Regions from separate parts of the Homo sapiens genome. Here region 1 is linked to region 2. Evidence: fine-mapped expression QTL. Tissue or cell type: whole blood. Region 2 holds a variant in brackets; the other region holds the start of a gene. All regions are shown on one strand. Distances are from middle to middle.

Region 1 (8,144 bases), 32 kb after region 2:
TAGCATAGGTCTTTGAATAAATTTTGCTTCTAAGATAAGTTACTATTTAGTCTTAATTAGATGGGGAGGAAACTCTTTGAAGCAGAACCTCTACTTTACTTTTTACCTAACGAACATTTTCTCCAATACTCTCAGGGATTTGCACTAAATCTCCTCTGTCCTTGCGAAGCCGAGGCGAAAAAGATAGAGAAACAGCACAAAGTAACCCGCACTCCTAATTGTCCAGAGCACTGCAAGCTCATCAGAAGAAAGGAGGAGGAAGGGAGAAGAGCATACTCCAGCATACAACCAAAAGCTTTGTCCAAACATCCAAGAGAGCAACAAGGCTTTGTTGGCAATCAATCAATGAAATAACATAGGAAATGTACATGAAAGGAAAGTATCTTGGGCACCCAAGATCACTAAGGAAAACTCAAGCTGGAAACTGCTTAGGGCAAACCTCTCCCATTCTATTCAAAGTGACTTCTCGGCTCACTGAGATAGATGCATATCTGATTTGCCTCCTTTGGAAAAGCTAATCAGAAACTCAAAAGAACGCAAGCATTTGTGTATCACCAATCTGTGACCTGAAAGCTCCCTCCCCACTTCCAGTCTTCCTGCCTTTGCTTCAAGTTGTCCCGCCTTTCCAGAACGAACCAACGTACTTCTTGCATATATTGATTGATGTCTCATGTCTCCCTAAATGTACAAAACCAAGCTGTGCCCTGACCACCTTGGGCGCATGTCAACACGACTTCCTGAGGCTGTGTCACGGGTGCGTCCTCAACCTTGGCAAAATAACCTTTCTAAATTAACTGAGACGTGTCTCAAATTTTCGAGGTTCACATATATTTTCTGTGGATATAAACAGCATAATGAATAAACTATCTGAAACTGTTCTGCTGTGCTAAGTTAACAAAAAATTTTAAAAAACAAGGCCTTAAAAAAGTCAATGTAACAGTCTTCTTACCACTTTGGATAAAACAATGAAGCCACATTTGTGCATATTATAGGTTTCTATGTAAGACCTGAAATTAGTAGATAAAAAATGCCAGATTTTAAATAAAACATTAGCTAAAATAAATGTCTCAAAGTGTTGATGCGAGTGACTAATACGCTATACAAATATAAATATGTAGAACTTTTACTTTAAAACCAGCAACAAACAATAAAGACATTTGCCCTGCAGCCATAAACACGGGCTCTATTATATCTGATTACAATGCAGGGGTGGAAGGGAAGGGGGTAGTAGGAGGACATTTTGGGTCTTCAAATAATAAATATAGGAAAAGAATACAAAATGCCTACTCTAGTTACGGTAACCAAAGTAATTTCTCAAGAAAATCCACCACTCTAGTGATTCCTGCTTCTTTTATCATTTTAGGTTCTCCCTACTAGAAAATGTAAATGTTACATTTTTAGCTTTTTCCTTAAATGCATTTTTCCCCCCAAGAAGTGGTACAGTGGAATATTAACGGATTTTAGAAACAGGCAGATACATAGTTTCCAACATCTGCTCTACAATCCACTATCTTTGTAATGGTGGAGAAATTACTTAACCTCTTTAAGCCTTAATTTCCTCATCTATAAAACAAGGATAATTATACCTGCTTTTTATAACTGTCTTATGCAATAAATAAAGCTATAAATAAATGGCATGTAGTAGCCATTTAAAAAAAAAAGTCTCTCTCCTTTTATTAACTGTACAACAAACAGCTCTTCATCCTCCATTCCTTGCAATTTAAAAAACTACAAAGGTAATTTGCTTACACTGACAGAGAGAAAATGAGTTTTTACATTTTGTTCAGAAAAAGTTTTAATCATAAGGTTTAACTCATTCAGAAAATCAGTTATTTCGCCTTTTTAATATTATATGTACTATGGTAATAAAAATAGATTCATCCAGTCACTGTCCTCACAGAGGTCAGTCTAGTCAAAGGAAAATTTTAAAACGGTAGTAATAATGAACATTTGACCAGCCTGGCCAACATGGTGAAATCCCGTCTCTACTAAAAATACAAAAATTAGCCAGGCTTGGTGGCACAAGCCGTAGTCCCAGCTACTCGGGAGGCTGAGGCAGGAGAATCTCTTGAACCCGGGAGGTGGAGGTTGCAGTGATAGGAGATCGCACCATTACACTCCAGCCTGGGTGACAGAGCAAGACTATGTCTCAAGAAAAAAAAATAATAATAATGAACATTTATTGAGCACTTAGAATGTATTTCTGATATATCAGCTCATTTAATCTTCACAACTACTATGAGGTTTATCATTGCCTCTATTTTACAGATATGGAAACTCAAGTAACTTGCCCCAAGTCATAGCGGACCCTGCAATCAAATGCAGCCAATTGGGTTCCATAACCTATGCCCTTAACAATCCCACACTGCCTTTTCAACTATACCATTACAACAAAATGTGGAAAGCGGTGACATAAAATAAAAACAGGGTGCTATGCGGGGAAAAAACATGAACAGCGTACTCAGTCTAGAAGAGCAAAAAAGACTTCCCCCGAGGATGTCATTTGAGCTTAACCCTGAGTGAAGAATAAGGTGGACAAAACAAGAGAGTTGCGGTGGAAACTCCAGGATTAGGAAAAGCCTGTAGAGGGCCCAAAGAAAAAAAAAAAAAAAAAAAAGCAGCTGCTGGAGCAAGAAAGTGAGTGCATGGAGGGGACTGGCAGGCGAAGCTGGAGAGATAGGCAAAGGCCAGTGAGGAATGGTCTTGGCAAGTCAGAGAATTCAAGCGTTATCCCAAAGGCAATGGGCACCACTACAGAGTAATAAGTCGGGGAGTGACATAATCAAATTTGCACTTTTGAAAAACAACTTTTGGGCCGGGCGCGGTGGCTCACTCCTGTAATCCTAGCGCTTTGGGAGGCCGAGGCGGGCGGGTCACGAGATCAGGAGTTCGAGGCCAGTCTGGCCAACATAGTAAAACCCCGTCTCTACTAAAAATACAAAAAATTAACCGGGCGTGGTGCCGGGCACCTGTAATCCCAGCTACTCCGGAGGTTGAGGCAAGAGAATCACTTGAACCTGAGAGGCGAAGGGTTGCACTGAGCCGCGAACGCGCCATTGCACTCCAGCCTGGGCGACAAAAGGAGACTCCGTCTCAAAAAAAAAAAAAAAAAAAAAAAAAAAGACAACTTTGGTTGTTGGAGGAAAAATTAATTCAATCTTGAAGGGTTTTGTCTTTGCTTGTGTGTTTTTAAACATCAGGTCCTAGAACAAGACTGGGGAAGGGCAAATGATAGTGGCCTGGCTCAGGGTGGAGATGGGAGAGAGGAGTTTAGAAGGGAGGCCAGGCAGAGACGCATATTTGGGAGGAGGCCGCAACAACCATCAGGGCACAATGAAATAGAGCAGGGAAAGCGCGTTGCCTGAGCACAGGGGAAGGTCCAGGAGTCATGGAGGCAACCTTCGGTGACTGCCGCTCTTCTCAGCCCTTCACAAGTGCAATATCGCCGGGAAGGAGGCAACTTTCTACACCACCTGCGGGCAGGGAGAGGCGGGTGGTGGACAAGAAACACCCACCAGAAGATAGTCCCGAACTTCATGTTTCTCCAGAGCTCCGTGAAGTCCTCGAAGCGTACACTGTCCGTCTCCTGGAAGCGGCTGAGCAGCGCCTCGCAGTCGGTCTGCAGGCCGGGAGGAGTCCCCATGGCACCCGAAGCCCGCACGCCTCCGAAGCCCGCACGCCTCTAACGGACTAGCCAGCGGTGGTCGCCCAGGAAACCAAGCCCGAACGGCCCGCCCCCTACGGCGTGCGCACACGCGCTCCGTGATGCATTATCCGGCACCTTTAGCTCCGCCTTTATCCGGGCTCTTGCCACCGGTCGTGTGCTTACTGCGCGTGCGTGAAAGCGTTCTGATGTTTTACTGGCTGAGATTGCTTTCACCCAGAGTGCTGAGATCCACCCTTCTTTGGAAGAGGTTTACGTCTAAAGTGTTGTGTTTGCTCACGAGCGGTTTTAGGTCTTCATTTTCCGCTAGGTTATGTAACTTGACTTTACCCTTACTAGCACTCTCCTTTAAACTGACCCTAGTGTGACATAAGTGAACTTTTGAGCTAGGAAAGAACAGTCCCAACCCCAACCCCACTCCCACTTGGGAAGAGAAGCTAAAGAAGGCTTGCTAGGAAACAAACTGCACTCATTCTCCTTCTGGTCATCGAGAACCCTAATACTCTGTACCCACATAATACGATGCTTAATGTGCGGCCCTCTCTTTGTAGCCCTGGCATTCTGCAACCACTCTTGAAAAGAAGAGCTGCATTTCATACCCTCTTGTAAACAGCCCTCCTCCTGCCCTGCCACGCATTCACCCCTGTGCTACATAGCACTTAGCAGAAAATACCTACTTGTTATATTCTTGTTATATTATTATTTGGATGAATTGCCTTTTTGTGTACACGCTGCCACCTAGCTTCCTTCCTCCAGGAGCTAGCTATGGAGTAACATTTTGAACTTTAGATCATTTCTCTGATTGAAAGGTAAGCTATCATTCTTTAGAAGAGGTATCCTGATATAATAGAAAAACATTGGGCTTTCTGTGTGTAAATGGAGTGTCAACTCACTTTACTTTTCTGATCCTTGACCTGTTTTTGTTTGTTTGTTTGTTTGTTTGGATTTGTTTGTTTTTTGTTTTGAGACGGAGTTTCGCTCTTGTTGCCCAGGCCGGAGTTCAGTGGCGCGGTCTCGGTTCACTGCAACTTCCGCCTCCCGAGTTCAAGCGATTCTCCTGCCTCAGCCTCCCGAGTAGCTGGGATTACAGGCATGCACCACTCCAACCGGATTTTGTTTTGTTTTGTTTTGTTTGTATTTTTAGTAGAGACAGGGTTTCACCATGTTGGCCAGGCTGGTCTCGAACTGCTAACCTCAGGTGATCCGCTCCCCTCGGCCTCCCAAAGTGTTGGGATTACAGACGTGAGCCACTGCACCCTGCCCTCTTGACCTGTTTTTTAAATGTTATGTAATATTTTATGTCACAGAAAAATTTATGCGATGTGTGAGATAAAAAGCATAGCAGTTAAACACCTGTACACCTTTCACCTGTGTAGGAACCAGAACATTACCAACGCCTTCACATCAATCTGCGATTTCCTCCTCTGACCTATTCCTTTGACTGTACCCTACTTTAATCACAGCTACTGGTTGGGCACGGTGGCTCACGCCTGAAATCCCAACACTTTGGGAGACAAAAGCAAGAGGATTGCTTAAGCACAAGAGTTGGAGACCAGCCTGGGAAACATGGTGAAAATTAGCCGGGCATGGTGGTGCACACCTGTAGTCCCAGCTACTCGGGAGGCTGAGGTGGGAGGATCATTTGAGCCTGGGAGATGGTGGTTACAGGAGACAGAGGTTGCAGTGGTGAGCCGAGATCGTGCCACTGCACTCCATCCTGGGCTACGGAGTGAGACCGAATCTCAAAAAATAAATAAATAACTACCTTGAATTTTGTTTCTCTTTCTCATGTATATATTTTATCACATATGTATGTATATTTAAACGGTATATTTTTTAGTTGTGGTTGGTTTTGAGTTTTATGAAAATGGTATTGCAACTGGCTGGGCGCAGTGGCTCACGCCTGTAATCCCAGCAATTTGGGAGGCTGAGGTGGGTGGATCACCAGGTCAAGAGTTCGAGACCAGCGTGACCAAAATAGTGAAACCCCGTCTCTAATAAAAACACAAAAATTAGCTAGGCGTAGTGGCGTGTGCCTGTAATCCCAGCTACTTGGGAGGCTGGGGCAGGAGAACCACTTGAACCTGGGAGGCAGAGGTTGCAGTGAGCCAAAATGCATTATTTCCCCCATGATAGAGTGGGGGAACCATTTGGGAAATGGTTCATTACAACAGATAATTTGAGAAGCACTGTTATACACCATTTCAGTCCACATTCCATTGGCCAGAACTCAGTCACATGGACCCATTCAGGTGCAAAGGTGGCTGAGAAACGTCATCACTAATTAGGCAACCTCTCCCCAACAATAGTTTCAATCGCTGGAAGAGGTGCACACGTCTTTGTTGGACCACGTATTAGCTCATTTCTGCTGCTATAACAAAATACCATAGAATAGGTAGCTTACAAACAACAGAAATTTATTTCTCACAGTTCTGGGAGGCTGGGAAATCTAAGATCAAGGTGCTGGCAGATTCCGTGCCTGGTGAGGGCTGCTCTCTGCTTTCAAGATGGCACCTTGTTGCCGTGTCCTCACATGGCATAATAGCGGAAGGACAAAAGAGGCCTAGCTAGTTCCCTCCAGCCCTTTTATAAAATCACTAATCCCATTCATGAGTCCTCATGACTTAATTACCTGCTAAGGCCCTACCTCTTAATGCTATCACATTGTTAATTAAGTTTCAACACATTGATTTTGGGAGACATTCAGACCAGAACAGACTGCCAACATGTCTGCTGCAATTTTATTCAGAAACTCTGAAAGTATTACCTTTCACTTTTAATTTACTGTCATCCATCTAAAAATTTATTTCTATGTATGGTATAAGGATCCTATTTCACTTTTTTCCATATGTATAACCATATGTATGTATATGTATTTCCCGTATGTATAATTTTCCAGCATCTGTTATTGAAAAGTCCATCCTTTCCCAAAATTCACTTCTGTTATATGTCAAGTTGCATGGCTAATTGCAAACAGTACACAACTATGGCTTTGTACCTGTTATTAAAATACCAAACCATAGTGCAGTATTTCCATTACTGTTAGTATAACAGTTACCACTCTAAGCCTCCTTACTACCCTCATCCCAAACACTTGGGCCCCCCAGGCCACAAATCCCTCAACCTCCCAGCCTCTAAAACTGAAGTGGTTAAGCCTGGCACAGGAAGGAACCTTCAGTGCCGGCTCCAGCTTCAGTCTACTCCTAGGGTTGTTATCTACTTTCAAGGCTCCATTTAGATTTCACTTCTCTAACACCACACTAATTACTACAGAGTATCTTGACTATTCTTGAATTTTCACTTTTTCATATAAATTTTAAATTTGACTTGTCAAATTTCTCTGATAGCGCCATTGGGATTTCAATTGAATTACATTAAATCTGTAAGTCAATTTGGGAAGGAATAACATCTTTTTTTTTTTTTTTTTTTTTTTGAGATGGAGTTTCATTCTTGTTGCCCAGGCTGGAGTGCAATGGCGCGATCTCAGCTCACTGCAACCTCCACCTCCAGGGTTCAAGTGATTCTCCTACCTCAGCCTCCCAAGTAGCTTGGATCACAGGCATGTGCCACCATACCCAGCTAATTTTGTAGTTTTGGTAGAGATTGAGGTTTCACCATGTTGGTCAGGCTAGTCTCAAACTCCTGACCTCAAATGATCCACCCGCTTCTGCCTCCCAAAGTGGTGGGATTACAGGCATGAGTCACTGCGCCTGGCCAAAATAATATCTTTATTGTATTATTTCTATCCACAAACATTTCTTTAAGTCACCTGTAGCATCTTTACTGAAGTTTCATAATTTTTCTCCCTGAACTTTTTACTTGTCTTTTGTTAGATTTTTCTTATATGTCTTATGTTTTTGTGTGGCTATTGTATTTAGTATCTTTGCCTTACATTTTCTAACTGCTTGATTCCAATATATAAAAATGCAATTGAATTATATATATTTATTTAGTATCCAGTCCCCTTGTTTAAACTCTTATAATAATTTTTCTATTGATTCTTTTAGGCTTTCTATATAGATGATATCTGCAGCTGTGAATAACAGTAGTAATAATAGTTTGCTTTTTCCTTTCCAGTCCTTATCGCTTTTATTTCTTTCCCTCTTACTTCATTTCCCAGGCTAAGACTTCCCATACTGTTAAAGATAAACCTGGGAGAATGGGTGTGTGTTTGTTCACTAATGTACCATCAGCACCTATAAGTACTTGATACACAGTAGGTGCTCAATGAAGTGATGTTTTTATTTGTTATTTTACTTTTTAGCTCCAGAATTTCTATTTGGCTCTTTTAAAAATAATTTCTAGCTATTTGTGTTCTGTATTTGATGAATTATTGTCACCATACATTCCTTTACATCTTTACGCAGAGTTTCCTTTGATTCTTTGAATATACTTTTAATGACTGCTCTAAAGTCTTTATTAAAAAGTCAGCCATCGAGCCCTCTGTTATGTAATTTCTCTTGCATCCTTTTTTCCTGTG
Region 2 (8,189 bases):
TAACTAGTATTTGGACTTCATACTTTAATTTTGAAAACTCACTGTAAAACACAGATTGAACTCTGTTCAATGAACTTCAATTTCATATTTAAAGCAAGTCTATCAACTGATTCATACCTTATCTTCAACATATACTCATGAAAAACTCACTATTGCGGCCGGGTGCGGTGGTGCACTCCTGTAATCCCAGCACTTTGGGAGGCCAAGGCAGGTAGATCGCTTGAAGTCAGGAGTTTGAGACCAGCCTGGCCAACATAGTGAAACCCCATCTCTACTAAAAATATAAAAGCCGGGCATGGTAATGCATGCCTGTAATCCCAGCTACTCGGGAGGCTGAGACAGAAGAATCGCTTGAACCCGGGAGGCGGAGGTTGCAGTGAGCCAGGATCATGTCACTGCACTCCATCCTGGGTGACAGAGGGAGACTCTGTATCAAAAAAAAAAAAAAAAAAAATTAGCCAAGCATGTGGTCACACACCTGTAGACTCAGCTACTCAAGAGGCTGAGGTGGCAAGATAGCTTGATCTCAGGAGATTGAGGCTGCAGTGAACCAGGATCACATCACTGCTCTCCAGCCTGGGTGACAGAGCAAAACCGTCTCAAAAAAAAAAAAAAAAAAAAAAAAAAAAAAGGAAAAAACGGAAACCTAGGTATATGAAGCCATCACGGAACTGATGTACTATATAAGCCAGAGCCAGCCTTTGTTGGAACTCACCTGATTTTAATAAATTTTCCTTCTCGTTTAAGCCATTTTGAAGTGGAGTTTTACTGCTTATAGTTAAAAAAGTATCTTTCTGGATTTCCACGTGTTGGCTTATTTAAAAAAACTGAAATTATAAGACTGAGCCCTGTGTTTATAACTCAGAAGCATGACTTACTAACTTTGTGAATGGGGGCAGGGCACTAACCATCTTGAGGTACAAGTGAAACAATAGCATGTATTTTATAAGTACAGTTATGAAAAAAGAGAGGGCAACTCAGTGTGTTAGCTGTACAATGTCTATAAACTTTTAACAGTCAGACAAGTTCTGGCAAACAACCTAGTATATCAAGTGGGGCCAATAATGGATCTACACCCCAACCCTAGAATGTTTAAATCCAAGATGCTCCACCTAATGTCTACATTATGAAAACTGCCCCCTCTATGACCAAATATATTTGAAGTCAAAGGAATCAAAGGAAACAATTGTGACTGCATGAATGCTAATAAATGAAAATTTTATTTGCGTCAGCATTAGCATTCTGATTTTTAAAGATTAGATATAGAGATATCACGAATTTGATCTTCAACCCAAACTTTTTTTTTTTTTTGAGACGAAGTCTCACTCTGTTGCCCAGGCTGGAGTGCAGTGGCACGATCTCGGCTCACTGGGTTCACACCATTCTCCTGCCTCAGCTTCCCGAGTAGCTGGGATTACAGGCGCCCGCCACCACGCCTGGCTAATTTTTCGTATTTTTATTAGAGACGGGGTTTCACTGTGTTAGTCACGATGGTCTCGATCTCCTGACCTCGTGATCCGCCCACCTCGGCCTCCCAAAATGCTGGGATTACAGGCATGCAACCCAAACTTTAAATCCCTTAATAATACCATGCTGGAAAACAGCATGAAGTATAATCAACTGTGAAACAGGTTAAGGCTGGGTACAGTAGCTCACACCTATAATCCCAGTACTTTGGGAGGCTGAGGCAGGAGGATAGCTTGAGCCCAGGAGTTCAAGACCAGCCTGAGCAACATAGCGATACTCCATCTCTATTAGGGAAAAAAAAAAAACAGTTGAGCCAACAACATGATAGGGATATGGTCTGCTATTGGCAGCAATTCAAACAACATGGCTCAAGCAATCTCTATTAAAATGTCTGGAACAAGAAATTAACAGAGTGGCATATTCATGAAGCTACAGATTTTTTTTTTTCTGTTAATATCAACTATTCTGTACCAGAGACACATTCTGAAATTTACATTATTATTGTTAAAGATTTTATTAGAAAGTACTTAAATACTTAATACATTAGTATTTAAGTACTTGTTAGTACTTAATTAGTATTTAGTAATAATAAACAAGCACTAAAGAATATTTAATTGCAGAAGTAGAAAATACATTGTGAACTTCCTAAGTTATCAATCACGTTATGAGAATGTAAGTTTTATGTATTAAAAAATAAAGCAAGGCAAAAACTTTATTGCACTTAACAATATACAAAATAGAATAAATATACAAAATAAAAAATCCATTATCCGACTGTAGATACAAAATAGTTATTTGCATGTAATAAACATTAATATTTCAATAAAAAATATTTTAAATAAAATAGAATAGTATTACCAGACTGTATTAGGACAGTATAGTATCACAAAACCTTATAGGAAATAGTAACAATCTGCGAATAACAGAATTTTTTCTATTACATACTAAATACAAGTTTTATCTCCATTTATGCAAATCATTAAAGAAAATGTTAAAGAATTCTTATTCTAATTTTTTGTACTTTTATTCTAGAACTACGTATTGCAATTTCCAAGAAATAACCTACAGATTCCCAGAAGGATTTTTTTAATACTGGCAGTCTTCCTGTTCAATACACAAAATATCAATCTTTTCTTCTGTCAGAAAACTCAAAATTAAAAACTACACCAGGCTCTTTGTTCAGTGTTTTCTCCTCTTCTTGGATGCAGTGAACTCTAAAGACATAAAGTTTAAAAGTCAGTCAGATCTAAAAACAAAAAAAAAACAAACAAAAAAAACAACTGACACTTACATGATAATACCTAATTGATAATACACATTTCAACTACATAGACGTCTAACTGGTACAACACAATAAGAATGCCCTCACAGCAAAGACACAACAAAAAAATCTTAAACCTGACATATTCAAGAATTTTTTCTTCAAAATGATACAGCAGTTTAAAACATACTATCGGCCAGGTGCAGTGGCTCACGCCTATAATCCCAGCACTCTGGGAGGCTAAGGTGGGCGAATCATGAGGTCAGGGGATCGAGACCATCCTGGCTAACATGGTGAAACCCCATCTCTACTAAAATAAATACAAAAAATTAGCCGGGCGTGGTGGTACATGTCTATAGTACCAGCTACTCAGGAGGCTGAAGCAGGAGAATTGCTTGAACCCAGGAGGTGGAGGTTGCAGTGAGCCAAGATCGTGCCACTGCACTCCAGCCTGGACGACAGAGCGAGACTCCATCTCAAAACAAACAAACAAACAAAAAAAACACATAACAACAAAAAATACTACCTCCATTAAGGTAGTAAGATCTCAATCCTATTGCAATATCAATCTATTGAGATAGTGGCCCTTAGTCATTCTAAATCCTAATTAATAATAAGTTACTGTGAAGTTGTTTCATATGGGTACACCCTCCCTATAATTATATGAACCCAGGGTACTAGATCTCAAAGGTATTTAGGCCAGTACTAAGAAGAAGAAAATGACTAAGATTTCAATTTCATTTCAATTAAACCTAGAAATGTAACCCAAAACACCAGTACCACACATCATTCTGGCTACCACAGGAGATGCCAGAACCAACACTCGAATAATTGTCCATCTAGAAACAGCACGAACCTAAAGTTTACTGATCATTAAAAGCAAAGAAAGTAATAGAAAACACAAAAACATGAAAATTACAAAAGATGTGGCAAAAAGAAATATTCCGGCCGGGTGCAGTGGCTCCCACCTGTAATCCCAGCACTTTGGGAAGCCAAGGCAAGCGGATCACTTAAGGTCAGGAGTTCAAGACCAGCCTGCCCAACACGGTGAAACCCCATCTCTACAAAAATACAAAAATGAGCCGGGCATGATGGTGAGTGCCTGTAATCCCAGCTACTTGGGAGGCTGAGGCAGGAGAATCGCGTGAACCTGGGAGATGGTGTTTGCAGTGAGCTGAGATCACGCCATTGCACTCCAGCCTGGGTGACAGAGCAAGACTCTGTCTCAAAAAAAAAAAAAGAAAAAAAGAAAAGAAAAAAAAATATTCCCCACCAGTGAAAAACAAAAGGGAAATGGCAGAAAAAGAAAAAGAGAAAAGACAAGTAAAAAAAACAAATTAAGATGAAAACAAATTCCTAGGCCAGGCACGGTGGCTCATGCCTGTAATCCCAGTACTTTGGAAGGCTGAGGCAAGTGGATCACTTGAGCCCAGGAGTTTGAGACCAGCCTAGGCAACACAGTGAGACCCTGTCTCTACAAAAAATACAAAAATTAGCCAGGCATGGTGGCATGTGCCTTCAGTCCCAGTGACTCAAGAGGCTGAGGCGGGAGGGGAGGATAGCCTGAGCCGGGGAGGTCGAAGCTGTAGTAAGTCACTGTGATCAAGTCACCGCACTCCAGCCTGGGCAACCCAGCAAGACCCTGTCTCATGAAAAAAAAATAAAGAAAACAAATTCCTGGAAGAGAGCAGCAGTCAGGATTAGAAGTACTGGAACACTGTCCAGATGAAAGCAGGTCAGAGGTCTGACAGAGACATCTCTACAAAGATGAAACTGATAGGATACCTAATGGGTATCCATACCATTCATTTATTGTATTATCCCTGACTTTGAGATGTCATTAATGATATGACTAATACTGAAATTCTCCAATGGGTCAAAGATGAAAGGATCACAAGAACACACAGCAAACTGTCATGTTCCTCAAGGGTTCTAAACCTTGATGCTCTACGAGTATAAGTTAGTTTACTTGACTAGTTTGACCAAATTTTATCTGTACCTGTTCCACTCAAACTTTCATTCTCTTCTTCTTCTGTAATTACAGGCATACTCAGACT[TA/A]AAGGTTTATCTTCCTTGTGTATATTCTGCACATTGCCTAGAAATATTTAGAAAATGATTTTATATGAAAGCAAAGAATATTATAATCTTTGAGAAAACATTTTACAAAAACTGTCATTATTACAGCATAAAAATTAGACATGTAAAAACTGAAACTGTAATGGTAACAGAAATACGCATTCTAGAATACCTATATTTTTTCAAATACTAACATATTTGTATTTATACTTTGAAAATAGTCTCTAGTTCTTCCACTAGAGAAAACAGAGAAAAAAGGAATAAACAAAATTAGCCAAACACAAATACCATATTTAATCTTTACCACACATGACAGGGGTTATATCTGCAGCCATCAAAGAATAATCACATATGTTACTTCAACTTTATTAAATTAATTACAAATGTAATTTTTGAGTTTAACAGCCTTACTTTTGGATGTGAACATACTTTCTTTTCTCACCACATATGCTCTACAAGATATATTCCTCTAGTCATAATTTGCGATTGACTTTCCATTTTCAAAAACACTAGAGGTTCTCTACATCAACCTTCTGTTACCTGAAGAAGTATCCCAACCAAATTTATCAGATACCATTGTCATATCAAGTACCATTTAGCACACAATTTCCATGTCCCAAAAGCAACCCCCATAAACAGTGACTATTTTTTATGCTGTTTTTCTTTGCCCCAACACTTTTATCATTTGATATGTTATATCTTGCTTTTTTTTTTTTTTCTTTTTTAATGGAGTCTCACTCTGTCACCCAGGCTGCAGTGCAGTGGCGCGATCTTGGCTCATTGCAACCTCTGCCTCCTGGGTTCAAGCAATTCTCCTGCCTCTGCCTCCTGAGCCTGCACACTGAGAACAGAAAGATGTTCACTACAATAAGTGTAACAGAAACACTATTTTCTTTTTTTAAAAAGACATAAGAACAAAGCATTGTGGCATGAAGCCATTTAATATAAACTGCCGCACACTTAAGCTATTTTTTTTTTTGAGACAGAGTCTCTCTGTAGCCCAGGCTGGAGTACAGTGGCGTAATCCCAGCTCACTGCAACCTCCGCCTCCCAGGCTTAAATGATTCTCATGCCTCAGCCTCCTGAGTAGCTGGGACTACAGGTGAATGCCATCACGCTCAGCTAATTTCTGTATTTGTAGTAGAGATGGGGGTTCCACCATGCTGGCCAGGCTGGTTTCAAACTCCTGACCTCAAGTGATCCACCTGCCTCAACCTCCCAAACTGCTGGGATTACAGGCGTGAGCCACCGTGCCCGGCCTATTTCTTGATAGAATCATTACATTATAAAACCCAGTAACATAATCCTCATGATGGTGACCATGACTTGTCAGGAGAAAATTAAATTATGTTAAGGATACAGTGTTCCAGAAAATAAGAGCATAAAATATATTTGACTTTAATGTATTTATAATTACAAAAATGATAAATGTAGAAAAAAGGAAACATATAAAAGAGAATGCAATATATTTGAGAAAGATAGCAAAAAATAATTAAATTTTTAAAAAGTAAATTTTGGCTGGGGGTGGTGGCTCATGCCTGTAATCCCAGCACTTTAGGAGGCTGAGGTGGGTGGATCACAAGGTCAGGAGTTCGAGACCAGTCTGGCCAACATGGTGAAACCCTGCTTCTACTAAAAATACAAAAATTAGCTGGGCATGGTGGTGGGTGCCTGTAATCCCAGCTACCCGGGAGACTGAGGCAGGAGAATTGCTTGAACCCAGGAGGCGGAGGTTGCAGTGAGCCGAGATCGCGCCACTGCACTCCAGCTCTGGGCGACAGAGCAAGACTCCATCTCGGGAGGGAACAAAAAAGTAAATTTCAACATTGTAATCATTAACCTCAATTATCCATAAAACTAACTCCCTAGAAGGTCTCAGGTGGGCAGTTTTACTATGCTCAAAGCTAAATGTGTGGGGTGCAATGATCAGTAATAGACCACTACTGATTATCCAAACAAATGATTACTAGTCAGGCAGCTAGAATGCAACTAACAACAAATTTACTTAAGTGTATGTCTAATCTGAGCTCCAGATCCACACCTCCAGTGACCTGGGAGGTAGCACAGTATGACAGTTAAAGAATCAGGCTTGGATTCAGACAGACTCGTTCCAGTCTCAGTTCTGCTATGTATTATCTAGAAGGTCTTGGACATGTGAGAAAAAGTTGGTCAGATAAAAAGTGTTACATAGCCGGGTGCGGTGGCTTGCGCCTGTAATCTCAGCACTTTAGGAGGCTGAGGTGGGTGGATTATTTAACGTCAGGAGTTCGAGACCAACCTGGCCAACATGGTTAAGACTCCGTCTCTACTAAAAATACAAAAATCAGCCAGGCGTGGTGGCGAGCGCCTGTAATCACAGCTAGTGGGGAGGCTGAGGCAGAAGAATCGCTTGAACCCAGGAGGTGGAGGTTGCAGTGAGCCGAGATCGTGCCACTGCACTCCAGCCTGGGTGACAGAGCAACACTCCATCTCAAAAAAAAGTGTTAATAAATAGTAGTTGCTATCATCTTCATCCATCATAGCACTGGTATTACTGATGTCCTGTCAACATGCATGTTATATTCGAGGAATGGTGAGCACATAATTAAAGCTTAAATAACATAAGCTTAAGTAAATTCCATCAATATACTGAGCACCCATTAATACACCAAGCAATTATTACAGAAATCAGTCTGGCAAGGCGGACTGGAGCGAATTCTCCCCCCAATGAAATCTTTATTGTGTCATTGTATTTCTCCAGCAAGGACACAAATATCCTCCCAGGTGCTCAGACATTAAGCATTCTTGTCTCACCCCTCTCCACTAGTCTCCGTATTTGCTCTTATGTCTGTTAGCCTTGCTTCTCTAATTCCTACAACCATGTGGCACACGCTCGTTACTCCTAAATCTGAACTACCGCAACAGCCCTCTACTTAGTGTTCCTATTTTCAGTTTGTTCCCAGCTACCTACCATTCTACTCCCAGACTGATTTTCTTCAAGGAAAACTTTGGGCATGCCACTTTCTTGCTCAAAAGTTTCAGCTGACTCCCCCTCTGCCTACCAATTGAAGTGTAAACTTCTTGATTCCACATTTAAGGCCTGGTCACAATACAATCCTCAACATATTTTTCCAGCACTTTTAACATTTAACTCCCCAACATATCCCCTTTACAATCCAGCCTAAATGGACCCCTCACTCTATACTTCCCAGCTACTTTGCCTTTTTCACACCAGCCCCTCTACTTGTCTGAGTCTATGAAATTATGTTTACCTTATTTGTAAAAAGGTCTTTGGATTTCTACTGATTACTAAAGTAACACTTGGTTATACAAAATCCAAACGTTACAGACATTTATGGGTAGTTTCTCATTATACTATCCTTGAAAATTAACCACTGGTAATACT

The links. PIP is the estimated chance that this variant, and not a neighbour inherited with it, causes the effect.
Region 1: it holds the start of SNAPC1, and the variant in region 2 is fine-mapped to the expression of SNAPC1 in whole blood (TOPMed, PIP above 0.99).

What each region holds. Positions count from the first base shown.
Region 1 is chr14:61,757,960-61,766,103 of GRCh38, reverse strand. It overlaps SNAPC1 (small nuclear RNA activating complex polypeptide 1), which reads right to left and starts at 3,684. Exons shown (of 10, transcript NM_003082.4): 1 at 3,516-3,684. The coding sequence starts at 3,643. RefSeq lists enhancers at 2,714-3,457, 3,458-4,201, 4,269-4,358, 4,202-4,945, 4,946-5,690.
Region 2 is chr14:61,789,441-61,797,629 of GRCh38, reverse strand. SNAPC1 (small nuclear RNA activating complex polypeptide 1) reads right to left here. Exons shown (of 10, transcript NM_003082.4): 9 at 4,728-4,823; 10 at 1,202-2,681. The coding sequence ends at 2,647. Among named protein-coding and RNA genes, the nearest start is that of SYT16, 19 kb to the left of the region's middle. The variant TA/A (reference allele first, on the strand shown) is at 4,786.